Linked DNA regions of Homo sapiens. The protein of the gene in region 1 interacts with the protein of each later gene in a pairwise test. Each region holds a gene or a part of one and is shown on either strand. Other genes may lie near its edges.

Region 1 (7,268 bases):
ACCATTTTTTGGATCCCCGGTTGCTACATCTCAATTTTCTCTCTCTGGATCGGGTGGCTGGGGAGGAGGTGGTGGGATCTTGGAACAAGGAAGGTGTGGTTTTTTTTCTTTATTTTTTTTAGGATTTTTTTTGTTTGGTTTTTGTTATTTCTTCCATTCCAGAAAGGGATAAACAGCACTTCCAGGGGGAGAAAAAAAATCATGTTATCAGAAAGCAAAGAAGGGTGAGAGCTTCACATTTCCATGTATGCCTTTTCCCCGCCGCCCTAGCTCCCTTCGTCTTCCTTCTCTTCCTCATGGCTTTCATTCCGTCTTTCGTTTTGGTTTGTTTTCAGTCATTCTGCCTTCCCCCTTTGTCCTGCCTGCCCAGTTTCTAATTGGCCCCACATGCCCTTTCTGTATGGGAAATAGATATTTTTTTTGTATAAGCCTTTTCTCTAGATGTAAGCAGCTAAATCTCGTGTTTCTCTGGGGGCCTGTTTAGCTGGGGGCACAGTTCCGATTTTCCCCTCCCCCTAACCCCCCTAGTGCATCCCTTCTTGACTGCTCTAGGGAGGTTCTTCTGACCTCTGAGTGTCAGTCAGTCAGCCTGTTGGGAATGCTGACTTTTCTGGTGGTGGTTATCGGCCTGGGAGGCTTGGTTTCCCCTCTCCTGAGCCTTAGGCCTCTGATCATCTTGATTTGATTTTTTTTGCTTGGTGTTTGGGTGGTAGAGGGGGTGAGATTTGAGATAGAAGTTGGGGACGAAGACAGAAATCAAAGGTGGAAAGATAGTTTATCTGAAGTGAATCTCTGGGATTCTTTGCCTGAAATGGGAGCTAACTTGTGAGATTAAGAGTGGGAGAGTGGGTTTGGTGTTCTTGGGGGAAGCTGCCTGTGTGGGGGAGGGTGTGTCCTGACTAGGAGGCCTGCTCTCTTTATCTCTTGGAAGTTGGAATGAGGGAGTGGGAGAAACTGGGTGAAAGCCGAATGTAGGAACAGTTTCTACACCTCTGAGCAGGTAAAAGTGGCCCTAATCTCTGAGCTCTCATACTCAATTCAGCAGTTTTAATTTTTCCTTTTGAATGAGAGAGGGTCCTTGAAGCTTGAACCTTCACCAGGCCTGCTTCTTCCCTGCAGCTCCCACCCCCCGCCCCGCACCCCCCACCCCCCACCATTTTCTCCATGCTGGTGTCTCCAGATCCTGAGGATCAGCAGGCCTTTACTTATTAAGCAGTTGATTAAACACAGGTCAGGCTTTTTTGCCAAAGCCTTGGCCATTCTTTCTTGTCTTTTTAAGGGAATCGGGCTTCCCTTCGTTTCTCGTGCAATTTTGCCATATAAAGGTGCCTTTGGCCAGGGAGACTGAGGCCACAGGGTTGTGGGCAAATCACAGTCACTTTTGTGGGACTATTTTCAGAGGAGGGTTTTTCTCCTTTCATATAGGAGTACTCTGGTGAGTTATTACCTGAGAATAGTTGGAGTCCTAACCCCACAAATGACAACTTTTAACTCATCTGGGCAATAGGTGGATGTGGTTGCTGTGATCCACGCTCTTTCCCCAAGGAAAATCTATTTCCCACTTTTCCCATTGGGACAAGGTCTCTAACCTTGATCAGAAAAGCAGCCCTCCTAATCCCACCCAAGTGATGAGGCAGGAGGGTTTCCTGACCCAGTAACTAACATCTTGCTCTCTCTTCCCCTTGGTTCTTTTCTGCCCGCCCCCCCACCACCACTCCCCCCTCCTGTCAGTGAGGAGAAGGAGGAAGTGACCATGGACACAAGTGAAAACAGACCTGAAAATGATGTTCCAGAACCTCCCATGCCTATTGCAGACCAAGTCAGCAATGATGACCGCCCGGAGGGCAGTGTTGAAGATGAGGAGAAGAAAGAGGTAAACATCCAAGCCACCTATTGGGGCGGGTGGGCAGGAATGGACCTAGGGGAAAGAGTAGAGCACTCTAGTGATCCCTCTTACACGGTGGGTTAACTTAAAGGAGGGATGAGGCAGGGACTTGGATCAGAATAGGGCCAAGGGAGAATTCGCTGGTTTAGCAAGGGAGACCCCTTGTGACGGGGACAGGGCTCATTCATTTTCCTTTCCTTGTTGGGGAAGTAGTGCCCAGACTCTAGACGTTTGTAACTAACGGGAAAGTCTGATAATGGCCCTTTATCTAAGATTTATGTTCAGCTTTTCCTGCTGTCTTCCCAAGCTTCTCCTGGTGGTAACTCCTTTAGCTTTCCCTCCTTTTTAAAAGCCTGATGGAGCCCAACGCCATCTAGTGGACATTGGTGGTTCTCACCAGACCAGCCATGCTGAGAAATTTTTGTTCCTCCTCTGCCCTCCAGTGGTCTGACTGCAGAGATGTAGCTACTTAGAAGCCAGCACTTGTGATCCGGAAGGCCCATTCTCAGTTACCTGTGACCCCTCTACCTCCTTTTTTGGCATATGTTATCTTGTGTCCTGCACCCACTTCAGGGGGCTTCCCCCATCAGAGCCAGCGAAGTCTTCTTGGCTCTTAAAGTAATTGAGAAAGAATGAGCTGGGTTTAGGAGAGGGGTAACAAGGTGGGAGGGACTGTTGTGTGTGTAGCCTTTTTCTGGTGTGTGTTGCGGGGGTGGGGGCCGGTGAAAGTGATTTGATGTGCAGAATATTATTTATTACAAGGTCCTTCTTCCCCGTAAAACTTTGTCCAAGTACCTCATGTACGGTAATCCGCCCGTAAAATATAACCCTGCCCAACTGGCCAATCGCTGATGCCGCCTCTTCCTCTGGACCCACCCGCTGCTACTGAGCTGCCCAATCAGAGCCAAGTCTGCTATCCAGGTGTCTTGGCCAGAGGGGGGCATGTATATGGGCTCCTGTGATGGGCCCCCTTTTGCCTCCCTGTCTTGCTTACATCAGGGGGCCAAGAAGAACACTGTTCTGGAGAGACTTGTATTGAGCAAGCAAAAAACATTTGGAAAGGGGTGGACTTGCATCATCTCCCTACTTGGGACACCCCAAGAAGAGCTTGTGCCAGTGCTGGGGCGCCTGCCCACATGCCCTTGCCCTTTTGAGGACTGTGGGTTGCCTTGTTTGCTACAGACTGTTGGGATCCCCATCTAGGGCACCAAGACCTCCTAAAGTTTGTGATCGCAGTGCCATGCTGTAAAACACTGAGTGGGACCCTCTACTTAAGCTGTGACGACTAGGAACCGTGCAGAGGAGTCTAGGGTCTGAGCCCCTGGGGATTTAATGCTGATGACAGCCCAGCCCATGTGTCACCACTTGCTCATCAGATGGACTTTCCTTTGGTCCCTGTTGTCCATGGTGAAGGGCAGCATGTTGGTTGCTCCAACTTCTCCTCCATCCCTGGAGGCAGGGACTCATTTCATCCACCTGACTGGAACCACTGTCTCAGCTGGAGTCCCTGAGGAGATGCCAGCCACAACTCTCCGAAGAGAAGTATTCTGACCTTGCTGCTGAATGTCTGCCAGGTCCTGGGGTATTCACCTACCCCCAGGCTACCTTCATCAGAGGCTCCATGATCCCACTCGGTGAGAGGACCCCCTCCCCAGTTACAGGCAGAGGAGAAAGGGACTCTGGAGTCATCACCTGGATTCCAAGTATTGGGTGGTGTTATTGCTGCAGCTTGCCACTGGTGGACATAGGGTCCTGCCTGCCTCTCACGATAAAAGGCAAGGATCATTCCTGCTACTCACAGGCCATCTCATCAGGGACTGCAAGATGATGTCCCTTCAGGGCCAGGACTGATGTCTCTGCCCCTTTCCCCCCTCTATCCCTCGCTGAGCCTGGCCACCGCCAGTGAACTGTCTTGACATCATGGAAACTGGGCAGCGTCCCCCCACACGTTTCCCTCCCGCCCCCCCTGCGCCCCTGGGAGGACTCTGGCAGTGCCGTGCTGACTACCACGCCGTGCGCCCACCTTTTTTGCCAACCCAACCCCCCACCAATTGCACAGCGCCTAGCAGGGAGGGCTCATTCTGATTGGACCGGCGGTTGACTAGATACAGTACACAGTGAGGTGCGATTGGCTGAACTGAAGATCCCAGGTGTGAGATGGTACCTGGAACATTTGTCATATTCCTAGTTTATTTTCTTCTTTATTTTCTTCTTCTTTTTTTAATATTTTATTTTATTTTTTTCTATATCTTTATTTTTTCTGATTTCTTTTATTTATTTATTTGGTTCATGTTTTTCCTGTTTTAATTAAGACCTTTTTTTTTGTTTTGTTTTTCTCACTAACTTACCCATCGAGAGCGGCCCAGCTAGGGGTCAGGCTGGCCCTTAACAGAGACCAAGGAGACTTGGTTAGACGACACAAACGGGGCTGCGGGTGGGGGTGGATGGGAAAGGGATTTCATCACGAGGTTTCTGCCCTACCCTTTAGAAGAGTGGTAGAGTGGTCTTAGTTTTTCCAGAAATAAGCACCTACACTTGAAAATACTCTATTCCCTTTTTCTCTCTCACTTTTCTCCCCCGCCCCCCATAGTCTTTCGTCATTCACCCACTGAGTGTTTGGGGTAGAGACTTGTCCCAAAGATGTCTTCTGGTCTTTGGCAGAGCCCCTAAGGCTTGAGCCCTGGTTGGAGAGGAAACAGTAAGACTCTGCTGGAGCTCCCTGCGGTGGCTGGAAAGTCTAAGGATCTCCTTGGGGACAATCTGCCCTTCATAAAAACCTTCCTTTATCAAAGACACCTTTGAGTTCTTTTTGCTAGCACTTGGCTCAAGAGCCTCATCTCCAGTGGGTCTGGTGCTGCCCTTTTCCACAGTGTGGTGGGGGTCTGGGCAGTCTTGACATGACAGTCTGCTGTCCAAGCATCTCAAAGCCATTGTCAGTGGGCATCAGTCTGGCCATTGAAGAAAGGAGGGTTACCTTGTTGAAGTTGCCATCCAAAGTTGGTTTTCCTTGTTTCCTCGAGTTAGCAAGGAAGGACCTGGGAGGACTAGATGACCCAGTTTGGGGCACAGTTTGTTTGGCTTGGTGTCCTCTCGACTCAGACGGTGAAAGAGGGGGTATGACCAACATCTTTAGGGGGCTGAGAGGCTACTGAACTCCTCTTCCAGCTTATTTCTGGTTAAGCTAATACACAGGTGTGATACGGAGTAGATGACTTTTCCCTGCTCTGATGTTTAGTTTTATTTTTTTCTCTAACTTGCATTGATTCTGCTTCGTTTTTGCCGTTTGCCGCTTCTGTTTTGGTCTCTGTCTGTCTCTGTGTCTCTCTCTGTCTCTCTCTCTCACTCTATCTGTGTCTTTGGAGGCTAAGCTAAGACTGCCCCATCTAACCTCCTTCCCCCCTCTCTGTGGGGTGTCTCTCTTTCTCTTTTTTTTCCCCTTTTTCTTCTTCATACAGAGCTCGCTGCCCAAATCATTCAAGAGGAAGATCTCCGTTGTCTGTAAGTCCAGCCCCAAATCCCTGATAAAAGTCAGGAATACCATAAAAACCAGCATTCATTGAGAACCAGAATTTCATTCTCAATGGCATTCTTGGGTCACTCCCTCCTGCCCCACCCCTTGTGCCTAGCAAATCTGAATCCTTTCCTATGTAGGGTTTCATTTTGGAATTCAAAACTTGAGACAATCCCCATCATATTGCTCCAGTCACATTTTAATGAGATACAGTGTGAGGTGTCTGAGACCATGTCCCATTTAGCCTTAGAGGCATTTATTCTTTCAGATACCTGAATACTCAACAAGGAATGAGTTTCAGGGACTCCTATGTGATGCTTAGCAGTTTATGAATTATTCTGGGTATTTTGTTGTTGTTTTTTTGAGACGGAGTCTCCCTCTGTAGTACCCTAGGCTGGAGTGCAGTGGTGCGATTTTGGCTCACTGCAACCTCCGCCTCCGGGTCCCAGTTCAAGCAATCCTCCTCCGCCTCCTGAGTAGCTGGGATTAGAGGCATGCGCCACCATGCCCAGCTAATTTTTGTATTTTTAGTAGAGATGGGGTTTCCCCATGTTGGACAGGCTGGTCTTGAACTCCTGACCTTGTGATCCGCCTGCCTTGGCCTCCCAAAGTGTTGGGATTACAGGCGTGAGCCATCGTGCCTGACCTTGTTTATGCGTTATTCTAAGAGAGCACCCAAGGAAATGAAAGTGCCCCACACCTCAAACAGTAACAATTTTAACATTTTCCCCAATGAGGAACTCTAGATTACAAAAGTATAATAGATGTTTATAACTTAAATATCAATCTGTAGTGTGAAAATTAAAGGAAGACCAGATCCCATCATGATCTTAGTTCTGCCTAGATGTTAGTATCACATAGTGTTCTTGTTTCTTCTGCATTTACATGTCCTTCTCAGTTTTTCTTCCACACTACTTGATATTACTGTCTACCATTAAAAGTTTAAACGGCTCATCAAACTAGCTACCCCTCCCTTACTGCTTTTAGATCAGTGTTCAGTCTGAAGCCATGGTTTCCCCAGTTCCCAAATATGATTTCTTTTCTTTTTTTTTTTTTGAGACGGAGTCTTGCTCTGTCACCAGGCTGGAGTGCAGTCAGTGGCACCATCTTGGCTCACTGCAGCCTCCGCCTCCCGGGTTCAAGCAATTCTGCTTCAGCACCCTGAGTAGCTGGGATTACAGGCATGCACCACAACGCCTGGCTAATTTTTGTATTTTTAGTAGAGATGGGGTTTCACCATGTTGGTCAGGCTAGTCTCAAACTCCTGACCTCGTGATCCACCCGCCTTGGCCTCCCAAAGTGCTGGGATTACAGGTGTGAGCCACCACACTCAGCCTCCAAATATGATTTCTTTAAGTTAACCTTTTACCAAAACTCCAGCCAGAGGTAACCTGTAGGTATTACGGTTTGAACTAGCAGAGGTCCTGAGACCATCTAACTGTTGGGTCTATTTCTTGGGGACAGCAGCTACCAAGGGGGTGCCAGCTGGAAACAGTGACACAGAGGGGGGCCAGCCTGGTCGGAAACGACGCTGGGGAGCCAGCACAGCCACCACACAGAAGAAACCTTCCATCAGTATCACCACTGAATCACTAAAGGTGAGGTGGGAGGAGCCAGGGAAGGGAGGATGAGACCTGTTAAGGTGGGAGTAGACATGGGCCCAGTGTAACGGGGTGGGGGGTATCTGTGTCCCAGAGCCTCATCCCCGACATCAAACCCCTGGCGGGGCAGGAGGCTGTTGTGGATCTTCATGCTGATGACTCTCGCATCTCTGAGGATGAGACAGAGCGTAATGGCGATGATGGGACCCATGACAAGGGGCTGAAAATATGCCGGACAGTCACTCAGGTAAGGCTTCTGCACCCCAGTGTC
Region 2 (7,899 bases), about 16 Mb from region 1:
TCTCTTGCCTCCGCCTCCCAAATAGCTGGGGATTACAGGCGCATGCCACCACAGGCGGCTAATTTTGTATTTTTAGTAAAGACAGGGTTTCACCATGTTGGCCAGGCTGGTCTCGAAAAACTTCTGACCTCAGGTGATCCACCTGCCTCAGCCTCCCAAAGTGCTGGGATTACAGGCATGAGCCACTGCACCTGGCCGCTTCACATTTTCAATTCAGGATACCAACTAACTAGAACTTAGCACTTGGTACTGACTGTAATTTGTCTTTAAGGAAATGGAGACTTGAGGCTTTTTTTTTTCACATATCTAAATTTCAAGGCTATTAGCTATGATATCAACAACTGTTATATTCCAACACAATGTTTAAGTAAAGCTGTTCTATAAGAAGTTAAACCAAGTTTTTACTTGGCTTTGTTTCAGGTTTACAGTTAGGTCTTAAAAGAGCTTTAAGGATTTTTTAAAAAAAACATTAATCTACTACTTTGATAACTTAAATATATGATGCAAAACAAAACTTGGATAAATACCCTTTCAGTAGCAACAGTGGATTCTTGTTTAAATTTTTGAAGGGTACCCATCAACAAGCCAAATATTCGCCGGTTCCTAAAGAACAGAATAAGAAAATTTACTGTCAACAGGATCCATTTCATTTAAACCCATCATTTTCTAAGAAATACTACAGGATGCTTGAACAATCCCTTGATTTTCCTTATAACTGCATTATTTCACTAGAGTTTTTTTCCCCCAGGGAAATACCTTTGCTTTCCCTTTTCATCCATATTTTGATCCTGGATAAGGTCTCTACGTGTGCGCTCTTTGGAGGTAGCTACAACTGAAGACTGCAATGCTGGCTGCAGAAAAAGAAAATCTCAGTAATTTAACTAGCATATGAGTGGTGTGCTTTTAAATGTAGTAAAGTGAAGGTACTACATTCATTTAAGTTCTTTCAATCTCAATACCTTTTTAACATCATCATCCTCCGGGTCGCTTTCCTGGCGTGATTCTCTTCTGGTCCGACGCTCCCCGCCCAGCCTGTCATAGAAAATATTAATTTTTTTGAGACAGGGTTTCACTATACCACCCAGGCTGAAGTGCAGTGGTGCCACCACGGTTCACTGCAGCCTCGACCTCCCAGGCTCAAGTGATCCTCCTGCCTCATCCTCCCAAGCAGCTGGGACTACAGGCGTGAGCCAGCATGCCTGGGTAACTTTTTTGTACTTTTTGTAGGGATGGGATTTCACCATGTATCTAGGCTGTTCTCCAACTCCTGGGCTCAAGTGATCTGCTGGTCTTGGCTTCCCAAAGTGCTGGGATTACAGGGATGAGCCACTGTGCCTGGCCAAAAATTAATTTAAATGACCACTGAGGTATTTATGTAACTGCACACCAAGGGCAAATGCCCTCTCTTCTAGGACTCGTTTCCAGAAGCTTTGTTCTATCAAGTCTCCATCCCATTTTATTCTTTCCTCCAGCAGAGAAAGGATACTACAATGTGTGAACTAACGCCCAAACCAATTTTGCTCTCCTGTATTTTCTAAGTATTTCAAACTGGTTAAGTTTTTCAAGTACAAGTCAGAAAAAATGGTACTAATTGACAATTTTTCCAATTTTACTCTTCACATGACCTTTATTTGGATAAAATTTAGGTTATCATGAGTGCAGAACTGCGTTTTGAGGGAACTGATAGTCAACTGTTCAGTCAAATACCAACAGAACTTGGGGGGGGCAGGGAGTGGCATACCACTCAATTTTAATATTGCTGAAACAGAATTATTGTTAATAAACATTTATATTTGTGTGGTACCTCAGAAACTAAAGAAGCCTTCAGGAATCTTTTTTTAAACCTACCTACTGACTGCCCCTTCAAGGTCTCTCTGTTTGGCTGGGGGTCCTCCTCCACTATCTGAGAATCCACGCCTGAAATTTAAAATGTTCAACATAAAACACTTGAAATACAAGATAAATGGTATTTCCATTTGACAAGAGAATATGGTTAAACTTTCAAAAATCTTTCCAACTAAAGTAGCCTTAAACGGGCATTCATTCCAAAATGCTTTTATAGTGTTACTTTATAAGAATTAAGTTCACTCAAAATTGGTAAACTTAATATATTCTTCAACCTCCAGTTTTTCAGGATAACTATATTTATACAGAAATCTAGTCTATTACAACATTAAACAAAACAAAGACGACAAACACTGGGTTATTGATTTTATCACAGGTTTTGTTCAAACCAACATATTTAGTAAAGTACCAGTAGTTTCAGCATGAGTAAAGTCCAAAGGAAATCTTACCTCAGTAATAAACTACCACGTCCTCTACCTCCACCAGGACCAGAAAGGGCCAGCAATCTGGCTTGGATGGGCCTGTAAAAGATTTACAAATCAGTGCAAAATCATATGTAGACACACACAGTCGCACCCAAATACTTTCAGAGATGTGGATCATAAGGAGAAAAAATCACAAAAGTTCCAAAAAGATAGTTTCAAATAAATCTAAATGTCTGAAACAGGACAGGAAGTACTATTTCATTTAACTTCCTCGTTTCTCCAGGACCTGTGTCACAGAAATTATATTCACCTCGATGCCCCCACACATTAACAAGCCTGGATCAGGTCCCCATCCCGCCATCCCCGAGGAGGCTGCACGTGGACAGGAAGCTGGGGTAAGGCGGCTTGTTGCGTCCCGGCAGGGTCTCGGGGCCAGCAACGGGCCGGGTGTCCGCCGGAGCGGGAAGGGGCTTTGTGCTGCAGTTCCGGGCCTGCAGGGCCGAGAGCGGGAATCAGCAGTCCGGGTCTTCTCACAGGCCAAGAAAGCATGCCGGCGCACCCAGGCCTCGCTCTCCTTCCTCAGGGACCTGAGACCAGCGCTCTACGGAGGGGACCTGGGGCCTCTCCACCTCGGCGACAACAGGGTTTTACCCGCCGCCCCGCGAACAGGCCTCGAGGTTCCAGTCTTCTTAAGGCTGGCCGCCCTCCCCGCCCCCAATTCACCCCGACCTGAGGGCTGCCTCTCCGAGCTCCGAGTTCCGAGTTCCCGTTAGGCCCTTACCTCACGTCATTCGGATCCCGCCCGGTGAGCTTGCGAATGTTCTCATCCACGTTCTTAAGACTCTCTTTGGCCTTTTCCAGCTGTTCCTGCAAAGTTCTCACGGCGACCGCCATCTTCTCCCTGCGGCAGGCTTGAGACTGCTTTACAGGCCGAGCCGGGCTATGCCGCGCCGCCGAGGCGCGAAAGGACTGACAGCCGGGCTCAGCCAATGACGATGAGCGTTGTCTTCCGGCCTCAACCACTCAGCGACCGGAAGGGGGAAGAACCTGCAGCCTTTGTGACTCTGAGCCAATGAAAAGTCAGCCAGGCAGTCATCTCCCTCCCCAGTTAGCTGCGGGTGCCTGGATCCCGCTGCTAGCGCAGAGTCGGGGCGGGTTTCACAATCCCTGAGTTCTCGGAGACTTAGGCTCGCGAGTCTGCAGTTCTGGCAAGGGGAGCGCGGAGTTTTCTAGGCCTTTTAACCTATGATGTAATGTGCCTTACACCGTTTTAACGTGATCACATCAGAGTGGGACTTAGCCAAGCCTCCTTTTCTTCCTTACCCTCACCTTGGTTAATGATTTAATTAGGAAAGGGCGCGGCTATTCTGTTGGTGCGCATGCTCAGAGAGGGGGTGGGCGCGTGCTTTCCTCTATTAGGTTAATTTTTTTTTTTTCACACGGAGTCTCGCTCTGTCGTCCAGGCTGGAGTGCAGTGGCACCATCTCGGCTCACTGCAACCTCCTCCTCCCGGGTTCAAGCGATTCTCCTGCCTCAGCCTCCTGAGTACCTGGGACTACAGGCGCGCGCCAACACGCCTGGCTAATTTTTGTATTATTAGAGACCGGATTCCACCATGTTGGGCAGGCTGGTCTCGAACTCCTGACCTCAGGTGATTCGCCTGCCTCGACCTCCCAGGGTGCTGGGATTACAGGCGTGAGCCACCACGCCCAGCCTGATTAGGTTAAAGTGAGAAGAGGGAAGACAAAAATGAAAACTAGTAAAAGTCATTAGTCATAATGGCTAACGTTTGTTAGGGGTTGATCTTGTTCCCGACCCTCTGTGAAACCGTCTACATGCCTTATTTCTCACAAACTGAAAGTGTGGATAAAATGCCTGTTATTACTGATAAGGAAATTGAGACTGGAGATAATATAACTGTCCTTTGGTCACGCCAGTTGAGAATCAGTCTCTGATTAGACGCTGAGCATCTATACTAGAGAAAAGAAAGCAATGGCGAGACAGACACGCAGTCATGGTTGAGTTAGCCTCTTCACCTGGCCTAGAGCTGGTTAAGACCAGACCTAAGGGAGCGGCCCTGTTGTTAGTGGTGTCTGTGTGTGTTGTCCCGCTTCTGGTTCTGCCCTACCTGCACTGCCAATGTAGGAACTAGTTTTGTTCTATAAATATATATACAAATTGAAGCTCAGAAAACATTTTTTCACAGGCCAGGCACAGTGGCTCACGCCCGTAATCCCAGCACTTAGGGAGGCTGAGGCAGGTGGATCACTTGAGGCCAGGAGTTGGAGACCAGCCTGGCCAACATGGGGAAACCCCGCCTTTACTAAAAATACAAAAATTAGCTGGGAGTGGTGGTGTACGCCTGTAATCCCAGCTACTCGGGAGCCCGGGATGCGGAGGTTGCAGTGAGCCGAGATTGCACCACTGCACTCTAGCCTGTGCGACAGAGTGAGACTCCGTCCCAAACAAACAAAAAAACAAAACACTTTCCCACAGAAACAATGCTTTAAATAATCTCAGCCAGGCATCTATCTTCCTTGTACAAAGAATTAGTGGGCCCAGTGTATTAATTAACTCAAGCTACCACTTTAATCCAGCAATCTTTTAGAGCTTCCATTGTGTATCAGCAGTAAGCTAGGGTTTGAAAATAAAGCCTAGAACAAGATAGTTGTGATTCCTGCTTCTGTGGGGTTTGTAGGCTTCCAAAGGAGCAATGATCATTCATTAGTTCAACAAATACTGAGGGCCCACTATGTGCCAGGTGCTATTCTAGGCACTTGGGTATATCAGTGTACAATAAAGATCTCTGAGCAAGTCCAGTGGATTGTGCCTGTAATCCCAGATACTTGGGAGACTGAGGTGGGAGAATCGCTACAGCCCAGGAGTTAAGACCAGCCTGGGCAACATAGCAACGATCCTGTCTCTAAAAATAAAAATTTTAAAAATTGTACTGGAGAGGCTGAGGCGGGATGATTGTTTGAGTCCAGGAGTTTGAGACTGCAGTGAGCTGTCATCACACCACTGCACTCTAGCCTGGGCAGCAGTGAGACTCTGTCTCAAAAATAAATAAATAAATAAATAAATAGTATAGCATGTTAGAAAGCGGGAAGTACTATAGGAGAAAAAAATGTAGAGATGAATAATGGGGATGAAGATTGACAATTATCTAATTCTGATTGTGAGCATACTTAGCCTCATTGATCTTATTACAGGTCTGTGTACAACCTTAGGCAGTACCTGAGGCATGAGAGTGTGATAATAGTAGAGCGTATTCAGCAAGTGTAAGAATGTTTGCATGTATGGTCGGCCCGGTAATCCCAGGATTTTGGGAGGCCTTGGTGGGCGGATCACTTGAGATTGGGAGTTCAAGACCAGCCTGGCCAACATGATGAAACCCTGTCTCTACTAAAAATACAAAATTAGTCCTGCATGGTGGCAAGTGCCTGTAGTGTCAGCTGCTTGGAAGGCTGAGGCAGAATTGCTTGAGCCCGGGAGGTGGAGGTTGCATGCAGTGAGCCAAGATCATGCCACTGCACTCTGGCCTGGGCAACAGTGAGACTCTGTCTCAAACAAAACAAAACACACACAGCTGGGCACAGTGGCTCAAGTCTGTAATCCCAGCACTTTGGGAGGCCGAGGCAGGCGGATCACCTGAGGTCACGAGTTCGAGATCAGCCTGACCAACATGGAGAAACCCCGTCTCTACTAAAAATACAAAATGAGCTGGGCTTGGTGGTGCATGCCTGTAATCCCACCTACTCGGGAAGCTGAGGCAGGAGAATCACTTGAACCCGGGAGGCGGGGTTGCAGTGAGCTGAGATAGTGCCATTGCACTCCAGCCTGGGCAACAAGAGCAAAACTCTGTCTCAAAACACACACACACACACACCACACTCACTGTCCTTGCTTCCATAGGATCTATTCCTAGGAGCCTTGGCAATTTAACTTTATGGAGAAGGATAAGTAGGATGCTGTGTTCAATAGTTAGTAGGTCCTCATTAAATAAGTTTCCTTTCTATCCAGAAACGTACTTTAAAAGCCTCATGTTATTGTGGTTGGAGAAGTCAACTTTGATAAATTGGCCATTTACTTACTTTTTGACTTGTGTGGTGGACTTGGACTCCTTTTTCTTGATGGTAGTGATGAGGGCAAGAATGTCATCTAGACATAAAGGACCTGATTTCGCATAACTGAAAATTTAGTGCTGGAAAAATTAAGATTACCATGGCAAAATACTCTTCAAAATTACACAATTTAGTGTTTTCAAAGGCTTAAGTGGAGCTTTTATGCTGGATTTACGTGATGAATGGAATAAACTGATTCAAACATTAGAAGGGACATGCTTAAAAAAAAAACCTACCACAATTAAAATTTTGGAACATGATCTTAAATTCCTGTGAAAGGGCATGAAGAGTTTGTGTGTGTGTTTCGTTTTTTGAGACGAAGTCTTGCTCTGTCGCCCAGGCTGGAGTGCAGTGGCACAATTTCTGCTCGCTGCAACCTCTGCCTCCCAGGTTCAAGTGATTCTCCTGCCTCAGCCCCCCGAGTAGCTGGGATTACAGGCACCTGTCACCACGCCCGGCTAATTTTTGTATTTTTAGTGGAGACGGGTTTTCACCATGTTGGCCAGGCTGCTCTCAAAACTCATGACCTCGTGATCCCCCCCACCCCCCGTGCCTCGGCCTCCCAAAGTGCTGGATTTTACAGGCATGAGCCACCTTGCGGTATGTTAATTTGGGGGAAAACAACAGGGACAATTGGGGAAAAATTTTGTTTTGTGAATTACCAATGGAAGAACTAATCACAGGCTAAGCAACATGCTTACGGTTGAATTTGCCAAATTTAAGATGTACATACTATGATGTAGCATGTGTATTTATTTGCACATGCAGTGGGACAATTCCTACAGTTGTCTCACACTGCTGTAGATTATTAGCAACTCCATCCTGCAGTGACATCGCTTTTCTGAATTCTATAGCACTTTTCACCTAATCCTCTGATTAGTCTGTATTTTCCGGTTCAAGTGTATCTTGTTTTTCGTTTGCTCCACTTCCCTTGTCCCTTGCACCCCACTAACAGGAAAATTCCTGGTGGTCAAAATGGCTCTAATTCTTTTTGTATACCCGGGCTTAATTCAATAGGAATTGGGATAACTTTTCAATATTTAAAAAATTTGCACTGTGAAAACGTATATTTTAAACTCTTTCTACAACTTTTCATATTTGAAGAACATATGGCAGGAAGTGGATGCTTTTGATGAAGCCAAAAGAATTTTTTTAACTTCTATTGCTAATTAACAAGGAGGTGGCCGCGGGAGCTCTTTTTTTTTTTTTTTTTTTGAGACGGAGTTTCACTCTTGTTGCCCAGGCTGGAGTGCAGTGGCGCGATCTCAGCTCACCGCAACCTCCGCCTCCCGAGTTCAAGCGATTCTCCTGCCTCAGACTCCCGAGTAGCTGGGATTACAGGCATGCACCACCAGGCCCCGCTAATTTTGTACTTATAGTAGAGACGGGGTTTCTCAGGCTGGTTCGAACTTCCGACCTCATGTGATCCACCCGCCTCCGCCACCCAAAGTGCTGGGATTACAGGCGTGAGCCACCGCGCCCGGGCCAGGCGGGAGCTTTAGGTC

Evidence for each region.
Region 2: the proteins of ACIN1 (region 1) and PNN interact in binary tests that used the Homo sapiens proteins (3 or more experiments, as listed by UniProt).

The regions. Positions count from the first base shown.
Region 1 is NC_000014.9:23,064,081-23,071,348, reverse strand, and holds part of ACIN1 (apoptotic chromatin condensation inducer in the nucleus), read left to right. Parts: exon of another isoform or gene 1-201; coding exon of another isoform or gene 202-224; intron 225-1,731; coding exon 1,732-1,873; coding exon of another isoform or gene 1,874-1,969; exon of another isoform or gene 1,970-2,647; coding exon of another isoform or gene 2,648-2,737; exon of another isoform or gene 2,738-2,884; coding exon of another isoform or gene 2,885-3,088; exon of another isoform or gene 3,089-3,989; intron 3,990-5,340; coding exon 5,341-5,383; intron 5,384-6,860; coding exon 6,861-6,994; intron 6,995-7,091; coding exon 7,092-7,244; intron 7,245-7,268.
Region 2 is NC_000014.9:39,170,545-39,178,443, reverse strand, and holds the start of PNN (pinin), read right to left. Parts: upstream 3,191-7,899; 5' UTR 3,165-3,190; coding exon 3,052-3,164; intron 2,666-3,051; exon of another isoform or gene 2,564-2,665; intron 2,367-2,563; coding exon 2,295-2,366; intron 1,918-2,294; coding exon 1,849-1,917; intron 1,033-1,848; coding exon 960-1,032; intron 852-959; coding exon 757-851; intron 604-756; coding exon 528-603; intron 1-527. UniProt on the Homo sapiens protein: Transcriptional activator binding to the E-box 1 core sequence of the E-cadherin promoter gene; the core-binding sequence is 5'CAGGTG-3'. Capable of reversing CTBP1-mediated transcription repression.